2 separate regions of the Homo sapiens genome follow, and region 1 is linked to region 2. Evidence: fine-mapped QTL for protein levels in blood plasma. A gene starts in region 2. The other region holds a variant in brackets. All regions are shown on one strand. Distances are between the middles of the regions. Region 1 overlaps IGF2BP3 (insulin like growth factor 2 mRNA binding protein 3). Region 2 holds the start of GPNMB (glycoprotein nmb).

Evidence for each region. A credible set is the group of variants that fine-mapping cannot tell apart. PIP is the chance, under the fine-mapping model, that this variant and not a neighbour inherited with it causes the effect. The UK Biobank Pharma Proteomics Project read protein levels with antibody pairs (Olink). The fine-mapping took linkage between variants from a reference panel, not from the people measured, so its PIPs are less certain.
Region 1: its variant is the best candidate, but not a certain one, in a credible set for the plasma level of the GPNMB protein (UK Biobank, PIP 0.56).

Annotation. Positions count from the first base shown.
Region 1 is chr7:23,362,418-23,367,796 of GRCh38, forward strand. The region is part of intron 3 of IGF2BP3 (insulin like growth factor 2 mRNA binding protein 3); the gene reads right to left. Among named protein-coding and RNA genes, the nearest start is that of SNORD65C, 31 kb to the right of the region's middle. The variant G/C (reference allele first, on the strand shown) is at 2,681.
Region 2 is chr7:23,243,799-23,249,177 of GRCh38, forward strand. It overlaps GPNMB (glycoprotein nmb), which reads left to right and starts at 2,977. Exons shown (of 11, transcript NM_002510.3): 1 at 2,977-3,129. The coding sequence starts at 3,060. RefSeq lists an enhancer at 4,429-4,548.

The DNA.
Region 1 (5,379 bases), 120 kb after region 2:
TTAAAGCCCAACATAAATACATAGACAGCAAAAGTGTGAAATGAAGCAAACATTTCTAAGTCTACACGGGGTTGGGAAATGTACAATTTGAAGCTGTCTATGTTTTTACCATCTTTCCTGTAGCTGTATTATTATACTATGCATGTTATCCAAATGGAGAGGCTGTTAGAACAGTAACTGTAAGTTTATTATAATATCAACTGCAGATGTACGTCTCATCAATATAAACCAAATTCAGGTGTCCTTAGCTTCTAAGAGCTATAGCAAAACAAAGTAAGTTTCTGTAAATTATAGCAAATTACTTACTCATCAGTTTAACTACAAATTTTCTTATTTATTTATTTATTTATTTATGAGACAGGGTCTTGCTATGTCACCCAGGCTGGAGTGCAGTGGCATGATCACAGCTCACTGCAGCCTCAACCTTCTGAGTTTAAGTGATCTTCTCACCTCAGCCATCCAAGCAGCTGGCACTACAGGTGCACGCCGCCACCCTCAGCTAATTTTTAAAATTTTTTGTAGAGATGAGGTCTTACTACGTTGCCCAGGCTGGTCTCAAACTCCTGAGCTCAAGGGATCCTCCTGCCCTGGCCTCCCAAAGTGCCAGGATTACAGACGTGAGCCACTTAGCCCTAGCCTAACTGCAAAGTTAAAAGGGCGGTTCCTTGAAAATGTTTTTCAGGTGCCAGGAAATAGAAAACAAATTTTATGGTAATTTACTACTAAACTTAAGCAATTTCTTCTAAAGGAAGGTTTATCTTATGTGGTATATTTTAGGCTTTTGTCTACTGTTTCCAGTTTGAAACATATAACAAGGTTTGTCTGGGGTGAGCTTCTGTTTTTAGTTTTGGGACAGGGTCTCACTGTCACCTATGCTGGAGTGCAGTGGCACGACCATAGATCACTGTAGCCTCAACCACTGGGCTCAAGCAACCCTCCCACCCCAGCTTTCTGAGTAGCTGGCACTACAGGTGCATGCCACCACACCTGGCTAATTTTTAAGTTTTTCGTAGAGATGAGGGTCTCGGTATGTTGCCCAGGCTGGTCTCAAACTCCCAGATTCAAGGGATCATCCCAGCTGGGCCTCCCCAAGTGCTGAGATTACAGGCGTGACCCAGCACCTGGCCTGGTTTTTCTTTTAAATAAGGTTAATACCTATTTATGAGTGAAATGCCCTTTATTTTTATTTGGTAAATTTCCTTTGCATGAGGTAAATTTAATTTTTATTTGGTAAATTTCTTTTGCATGAGGTATACACACAGAAGCACATTAATCTTTGTCTCTGATTATAGCTATTCTTAAATCACAAAAAGACATTCAAATATTTCATGAGTGAAGTGAATACTTCATAGGAGGAAATCCTGGTATATCTTATAGGAAGAGTACTCTGTAAAAGTGCTTGTCTGTTTTATAGGTGAATTTGCCATGTGATGTTGATCACAGACACATTTTATAAACGCCAAAAATTAAGAAACCTCTCACGTTGCCATTCAAAGATAAAATATACAACACATAATTCCTTAAATTAAAAACAAGGGTGGCCGGGCACAGTGGCTCATGCCTGTAATCCCAGCACTTTGGGAAGCCATGGCGGGTGTATCACCTGAGGTCAGGAGTTCGAGACCAGCCTGGCCAACATGGCAAAACCTTGTCTCTATTAAAAATACAAAAATATTCGCAGGGCGCGGTGGCTCACGCCTGTAATCCCAGCACTTTGGGAGGCCGAGGCAGGTGGATCACGAGGTGAGGAGATCGAGAGCAGCCTCATCAACATGGTGAAGCCCCGTCTCTACTAAAAATAGAAAAATTAGTTGGGCACGGTGGTGCGCGCTTGTAGTCCCAGCTACTCAGGAGGCTGAGGCAGGAGAACTGCTTGAACCCAGGAGGCGGAGGTTGCAGTGGGCTGAGATCGTGCCACTGCAGTCTAGCCTGGGCAACAGAGCAAGACTCCATCTAAAAAAAAAAAGAAAAAACAACAAAATTAGCTGGGAGTGGTGGCGGGTGCCTGTAATACCAGCTACTTGGGAGGCCGAGGCAAGAGAATTACTTGAACCTGGGAGGTGGAGATTGCAGTGAGCTGAGAGCACGCCACTGCATTCCAGCCTGGGAAACAGAGCGAGACTTTGTGTCAAAAAAAAAAAAAAAAAAAAAAAAGCGGGAGGTTGGGGGGTGGGGGGTGGCGGTGCAGTGGGCAACCTACTTATTTTCTAAACAAAAATGAAATTTTTTCAATACGAAAAATGTTTTACTTCATACTTAAGTCAGAATTCTAACAAATTCATTCCACCTTCAGTAATGAAGTCAGGAGGAAAAGTATGTCTACCATTAAAATTTAGCTTTTAAATGAAAGCCACACTAATAATAATAGAGCTTTACAGCAACTTGGATGGAGGTGGGGGTAGCGGAGGGGTTCAGGGACTAGGAGGTAGTTGACAGTTTAATATGTTATTTAAAATATAGCTTTTAGGACCAGACACGGTGGCTCACTCCTGTAATCCAGCACTTTGGGAGGCCGAGGCAGGTGGATCACTAGAGGTCAGGAGTTTGAGACCAGCCTGGCCAACATGGTGAAACCCCATACCTACTAAACATACAAACATTAGCCTGCAGTGGTGGCGCATGCCTGTAATCCCAGCTACCCAGGAGGCTGAGGCAGGAGAATTGCTTGAACCTGGGAGGT[G/C]GAGGTGGCAGTGAGCAGAGATTGCACCACTGCACTCCAGCCTGGGCAAAAGAGCAAGATTCTGTCTCAAAATAAAATTTAGTTTTTAAATGAAAGCCACACTGATAGTAGAGCTTTATAGCAACTTGGATGGAGGCAGGGGTAGAGGAGGGGTTCAGGGAGTAGGAAGTAATTGCCAATTTAATAAGTTTAATTAAATAAACATCCTTCTTAATTCTTCTGAAAAGCAATTTGTTCAGTAATTAAGTATATTAGTCTCCACACAGATTACCTTATGCCACCTTAACTTTTATTACTCTTAGAGATAACACTACAAAAGTTAAACACCTGTGATCTATAAACAATACCGACTAAACCTACAATAATGTCAAGGCAACAAATGTTCTTCAAAAGCTACAGTGCCAAAGTGATAAATATTTATATACACACACATACAAATGATACAGGTAAATTTTTTAACTTAAAAAAAATCGGGGGACAATCCTTTCATGCTCTTCCTTTCCAAGTTAGGCCTGGTAGAATGGCTTCTACGAAGAAGGGTTGTGACAAGAAGGGCCGCTCTGCCACCAACAAGGTGATGACCTGAGAATGCATCATCATTTACAAGGGTATCCATGGAGTGGGCTTCAAGAAGACTGCCCCTGGGCATTCAAAGAGATCTGGAAATTTGTTATGAAGGAGATGTGTTCACTGACATGAGGCTCAACAAAGTTGTCTGGGCCAAAGGAATAAGGAACGTCCTATACCACAATCTGTGAACAGCTGTCCAGGAAATGTAATGAAAATGAAGATTCACCAAACGAGCTCCATATTTTGATTACCTATGTACCTGTTACCACTTTCAAAAATCTATAGTCAGTCAATGAGGATGAGAACTAGCCACCGATCATCAAATATGTTAAAGTTATAAAACCACACACACACACAAGTAGAAATATACATTAAAATTTTCACTGCATATATTCAAAACAAAATTGCCTGTATAGTTAAATATTCTATTCCTAAGAATAGATAAATGCTATTGGTTGTCAACTTCCGTGTAAATCTTTTTTTTTTTTTAGACAGAGTCTCACTCTATCACCCAGGCTGGAGTACAATGGTGCAATCTTGGCTCACTGCAACGTCTGCCTCCCAGGTTCAAGCGATTCTCCTGCCTCAGCCTCCCAAGTAGCTGGGATTACAGGCACACACCACTACACCCAGCTAATTTTCGTATTTTTAGTAGAGACGGGGTTTCACCATGTTGCCCAGGCTGGTCTCGAACTCCTGACCTCAAGTGATCCACCCACCTTGGTCTCCCATAGTGATGGGATTACAGGTGTGAGCCACCACACCTGGCCATGTAAAGTCTTTAGAAAGATAACTAGAAACTACAATCCTGTGCACTTTTTTTAAATGGTGAGTTTTATTGTCTGTGAATAATACTTCAACAAGCATGGCTTTAAAACAAAGTAAAAAAGAAAAAAAAAAAAAAACCACAAGCAAAAAAACCCCTCTAATCCTTAGAAGAAATAGGTGCAGAATCAATCTTGGTACCTAGCTGTGGAAAAAATTTAACAACACAACTTAGGAGATTTTACATAGCCCCATAGATGGATTTCAGTGGATCTTTGATGTCTTACTCAAAGTTTCATGTACAAGGCTTGGAAGTAATGACAACAGAATAGGGAAAGGGCTGTCAATAGCCTAATAAGATTCCCAAATCTCAAAAGGATTTCCAACCCCCAAATGACTTGAACTGTACTATAGTAATCCCATCAATCTTAAGGCAGGCCATTATTTGAATATGCTCTTTTATATCAAGGCCTATCAAATGGTATCATGCCACTCCAGCCCACTGAACTCTCAAAGAATAAATACAACTTACACTTGGTAAGTTCTCACATTTTGCTTTTTTTTTTTTTTTTTTTTTAAAGACAGAGTCTTACTGGAGTGCAGTGACATGATCTTGGCTCACTGCAACCTCCGCCTCCCAGGCTCAAGCCATTCTTGTGCCTCAGCTTCCTGAGTAGCTGGGATTACATGCATGTGCCACCACGCCTGGCTACTTTTTGTATTATAGTAGAGACAAAGTTTTGCCATGTTGGCCAGGCTAGTCCCGAATTCCTGAGCTCAAGTGATCTGCCTGCCTCAGCCTTCCCAAATGCTGGGATTATAAGTGTGAGCCACAGTGTCCGGCCGCATTTTGCTTAATTCTGCATTAAACAGGAAGATAAGACAGTGTTCCTGTTACCTGTCACATAAGCTACTTATGCACCTGTTTTTGTCTCCTAGATTCTTGTCCCCTCTCAGTACTGCTAATCATTCTATGTCAGCCACAAATACTTCTTTTAAACAGTCTTAAAGGCCAAAAAAAAAACCACGAAAAAAAACAAAAAGCTTTCCACTCTATATTTCCAACACTTTCACAAGTTCCCATACCTAAATAAAATCTTAAACCAGAAAGGAAACATTTCTCTATGCTTAGGTAAGTTTAAATTCCAACGACAGGGGAGGGAGGAAGGGGTATAAATGCAAAGTAAAGCCTCATAGAAAATGTCTTTCTAGAATTCCCCCGTTATGTATTTAGGACGTGAAACCCTCAAATGTTCAGCCTTTTTAAAAAAAAAAAGTTCATCCACGGCTGGGCGCGGTGGCTCACGCCTGTAATCCCAGCACTTTGGGTGGCCGAGGTGGGTGGATCACTTGAGGTCAGGAGT
Region 2 (5,379 bases):
ATTAGCCGGGCGAGGTGGTGGTCGCCTGTAGCCCCAGCTACGCGGGAGGCTGAGGCAGGAGAATGGCGTGAACCCTGGGGGGCGGAGCCTGCAGTGAGCCGAGATCGCGCCACTGCACTCCAGCCTGGGCGACAGCGAGACTCCGCCTCAAAAAAAAAAAAAAAAAAAAAAAAAAAAGTTGACTATTCTTTGCTTTCCTCCACATCATTTCCGAACAGAGTAATTGTATCTGTAATTCCAGATAATTGAGATGTTTCCCTTTTCATTTCTCAATTGCCTTAAGGCGAGTTGATTAGCAACCTTCATCCCCCCAGCCATATAATATATTTACCAGACCTGGCAATTAGGATCTGAACGGAACAATTTTTCTTTCTTTTCTTTTTTCTTTTCTTTTCTTTTCTTGTCTTTTCTTTCTTTCTTTCTTTCTTTCTTTCTTTCTTTCTTTCTTTCTTTCTTTCTCTTTCTTTCTTTCCTTTCTTTCTCTTTCTTTCCTTCCTTCTTTCTTTCTTTTCTTTCTTTTTCTTTCTTTCTTTCTTAAGAGATGAAGTCTCACTACATTGCCCAGGCTGGACTCAAACTCCTGGGCTTAAGCAATCTTCCCGCTTCAGCCTCTGAAGTCACTGGGACTTCAGGTACACATCAGTACACCAGCTCAAAAAATTATTTCAACAAAATATTTCAAACTTTCTTTACAGTATAATTTTATCTTTCCAAAACAAACAAACAGGCTTGAGAATATTCTTTACCCAAAATGGCCCTGTCTCTGAGTCCTACATAGAGTTAACTACTTTATATATTATCAACCATTGATTATCAAGAAACAGATTATCCAACTTGTAGTTCTTTGGAATGAAGATCTTTCTCTTGTTCTCTTATTCACCTCTGTCCAGCTGCCTACATTTTGACTCTTGTCCTATCAGTGCCTCTTCTCTTTGATGGTGCAGGGAAGGAAAAAAGACATAAAAGTTGATTTGATCATTGTGTCTCCCTAAACAAAACGAAGGTTTTGTTACAGAAGAATTTAACACTTCCAATTTATTTAGAGACGGGGTGGCTAATCTGGCTAGAAATATGAGCCAGAACTGTGTCTGCAACAAAGGACAAAAATATCTTTAAAAATGTTAATAGTAGCTTTTCCTTAAATTGAAAAGGTGTTTTTTTTTAATTGTAAAAGTTATGTGTTTGTCATAAAAAGCAAATAGTGCTGTAGGCAGCTGAGGTGGGAAGATCACTTGAGGCCAGGAGTTCAAGACCAGCCTGGGCAGCATAGTGAGATTTTTGTCTCTACAAAAAATAAAAAGCAAATAAAAAATTAGCCGAGTGTGGTGGTGTGTGCCTGTAGTCCTACCTACTTGGAAGGCTGAGGTGGGAGGATCACTTGAGCCTAGGAGTTCAAGGCTGCAATGAGCTATAATCATGCCACTGCACTCCGGCCTGGGCAACAGAGTGAGAGCCTGTCTCTAAAAAAAAAAAAAAAAAAAGTTTTTAAGTAATTTAAAAAGCAAATAACTATATACATTATTCGCTTTACATTACATGAAACTAATAAGTATTTCCATTATTCCTTTATTCATCAATATTTGAAAATTGTTTCAGTCATGAATAATGTGTTCCTTTCGTTGTTTTCCCCTTCATATTTGCTGCAAAGGCTGTAAAAGGCACTCTACAGAGTTGTTTGCCGCCTTAGGGATGGAAGTCAGCCACTCCTGCTGTATGGATTTTAGTTTCATAGGCTATTTCCATTCCTCCTTGACACACTGAACCATAAATCAATACCCCAAGTTTTACCCTCACCTGCAACCAAGGTTTCTACTGCACTGAAAATGGCCATGTGAATGTGAGTTTGAGAAAGGTCACATATGGTAAAGTTTTCATGTTGCCACATTTTCTGCATACTCTGTAACCAGGAATGATTTGACTGTATAAATTTATCTTACAGACACACTTGTTTGTACATTTAATGCCTGCTTTCTATAATATGAAAAAATACACAGAACGTTTTATGCAATTGGCTCTGAGTAATGCAACACATAAATGCTTTGAGAGCAGTTACCAAAAATTATGCAGGTTATTACAAAAGTTATATGGAATTGCACAGATATTCTAAATGTGCTTTTGAGTAAATTTCTCAGCTACCAGAGGCCTGGGCAGCTGTTTCCAGCACATCCTGGCACAACATTCATGTTATCATCCACTTATGTATTCCACAATTTCAAATGATTGATAAGACACCTCCCCCATCTTTGCTTCCTCTTGGAGGAAAAAAATATACAAGCAATCACGAGCACAGGAGCAGGTGGACAACTACATCTTAGGAAAGGGTGCGTAACTGTGAACTCTAAACGTGAGCTGGGTGCCTGATGCAGTATAGGAACCACAGTAAGTCGATAATCAGTGAGGCTGGAGGATTGAAATTTTATTTGGTAAAGAATATTGAGCCAGGCGCGGTGGCTCATGCCTGTAATCCCAGCACTTTGGGAAGCCGAGGCGGGCAGATCACAAGGTCAGGAGATCGAGACCAGCCTGGCCAACATAGTGAAACCTGCCTCTACTAAAAATACAAAAAATTAGCCGGGCATGGTGGCGGGCACCTGTAATTCCAGCTACTCAGGAGGCTGAGGCAGGAGAATGGCTTGAACCTGGGAGGTGGAAGTTGCAGTGAGCTGAGATCGTGCCATTGCACTCCAGCCTGGGAGACAGTGTGAGACTCCATCTCAAAAAAAAAAAATGAATATTGAAATAGAGTCTATAGGAAAAAAACTCCTTGAATCTAGTAAATGTGGAATCACAAAATTGAAATAATGTGCATCTGAAAAGTGAATAAATAGATGCCAAGAAGGAGTGAGTCATAAGCACATGAGTTGTAAGAGGTTGAACTTGAGAGACCAGATCAGGCAGTGCCGCTTAATACCATCACATGATCCTCCCCGAGGCCCTGTATTTAATTAAAATAGAGAGGGAGGCACCACAGATGCCAGAAGAACACTGTTGCTCTTGGTGGACGGGCCCAGAGGAATTCAGAGTTAAACCTTGAGTGCCTGCGTCCGTGAGAATTCAGCATGGAATGTCTCTACTATTTCCTGGGATTTCTGCTCCTGGCTGCAAGATTGCCACTTGATGCCGCCAAACGTGAGTAACCCTTAATTTCTATGTTTAACCCATTCTCTGGCCATTGGCTGAAATGATGGCTAATAATATCCTCTGAACTAGAGGTTGGACTGAAGTTCTTCAGGAAGCTTTCATCTCTGGCTCACTCATCTCTTCTTCTGCAAACTGTTGGGAAGGCTGAAACTACAGCAAAATGCCTCCAGCTCCATTCTTTGCTTTCGGCTCATGGAAAGTAAAAACTATGCTGCCCTTCTCTTGTGAAGCTTCTTTTCCATTGCAATTGCAACCCATTCTTGCCAGACAGTGGTTGGGGGAGGGTTGGACAGCCTCCGGCCACAGAACAAAGCAACTCCACCAACTAAACTATGTCCAGCTTCCATCCAAAAGGGTGGAGACCTCACATGAAATGGGGTCTCCAATCTGGAGGCAAATTTACGAATCTCCCCAGCCCTGAAGCTATTGCTCCTCCTGCGGGGCTTCCTCACAGACCTGCAGGAGCTTGCTGGGAGAGGAGCTGAAGCCCAGGCTCTCTACCCTGGTCAGGCAGGAGAGGCCAGGGCATTTTTAACAATACTGATACCCACGCAATGAAACCGGAATCTTTGGGAGTGGGGTCAGAGGATCCTTGTTTTAAAAGTTCCTCTTGGGATCTGCCTATGCAGCCAGGGTCCAGACCACTGAAGCAGTGTGCAGATTCGCGAGAGGAAGAGAGCTGAGCCGCTGTAACCCTGGGCCTGGGATTGCGGGGACGGGACGGGTGGGAAGCGGCCAAAGGCGCAGCGGCTTCTGGTCAGAGCCGCAGAGGCCTGAGACGTGGGCCGCGCCCCGGCCCAGGAGACCCCGCGGCCGCGCCCTAACCCTCAGTCTCCCGACTGCGACTGCGACCCGGGAAAACGCCTACGTTTTTGGAAAGGAAGTCCCATCACAGGGAGCTGACCCGGTGTCAGCGCGCAGCACGTTCCCGGCCCGCAGTGCGCCGCGCGTCCTCCTAGCAGCCCGCGGAGCCCGGCACTGTGATGGTCCCGCTTCCCACACGAGGCCACGGGCCACAGAGTGGGCAAGGAACTCGCCCCAAGCCACACAGCGGGTAAGTTGAGGAGGCAGCCTTCCATCCCGACCTCTGTCCTTCCTGCCCGGGTTTGGGGTTGGACAGGCTCGGGCTCCCCGCCAGCCTAGGGGCTGGGTCTCCAGTGGCTTTGCTCCATTTCCTCATTTCCTTCAAAACGAGGAGTTTTCGTTTCCTCATTTGCAAAACTGGGTAATTGTGTTCTTGTGAGATCAGCTGCTTGGCGTGAGAGACGTGCATGGTGGGGATTGTTCCTACGGAGGCAGACCTGCACCCACCCTCAGGATACCTCCCAGGACAGGCTACTTTAAAGACGAAGGAACACAGAATAGACCCGATGGGGGACACCTGCTATTATTCCACCCTCTTTCACCAGTCCACTTCGCTCTGCTCAATAAAACAGATTAGCAGGAGGCCGAATCAGCGCTGTCAGCTCGAGAGGAGTCCTCAGCCTCTTGGGCAGTGTAACAAAACCCAGCCATTCACCAGGTTCACCTTGCTCTGGACTAAATATTCTGCCCAGAAAAAAATAAGGGCAGGCAGAATGTAGCAGTGTATCAAGCACTAAAGATTTCCTACCATTTTCCATTCGTAGCCCTGAAGGAAGGAGAAAGTGTGGACAAGGTAGGTGGAGGCAGCCCAGCCACCACCTCTCTGCTGGTGGACACAGCAAGGATGCCAAAGTGTGGAGGCAGAGTCGGCTGCAGCACTGGGTGCGACCTCAAATTTACCTTCACATTGATTGCCCCCAAAACCCACCCCCACAGGCTTTTATTTTTCTTTTAAAATCTGCTTACTATTGGGTTTTTTTTTTTTTAATCAATTTTTTTAGAGACAGGGTCTTACTCTCACCCAGGCTGGAGTGCAGTGGTGTGATCACAGCTCACTGCAGCCTCCAACTCCTGGGCTAAAGGTGATCTTCCACCTCAGCCTCCTGAGTAGCTGGGACCACAGGCACGTGCCACCACACCCAGATAATTTTTGTATTTTTTGTAGAAATGGGATCTTACTACATTGCCCAGGCTGGCCTCAAACTTCTGGGCTCAGTCCTCCCTTGGCCTCCCAGAATGCTAGGACTACAGGCATGAGCCACCTTATCCGGATGGGTTTATTTTATTTTTTAAATTTTTGTAGAGACAGGGTTTTGCCATGTTGCCCAGGCTGGTCTGGAACTCCTGGGCTCAGGCAATCGCCCACCCTCAGCC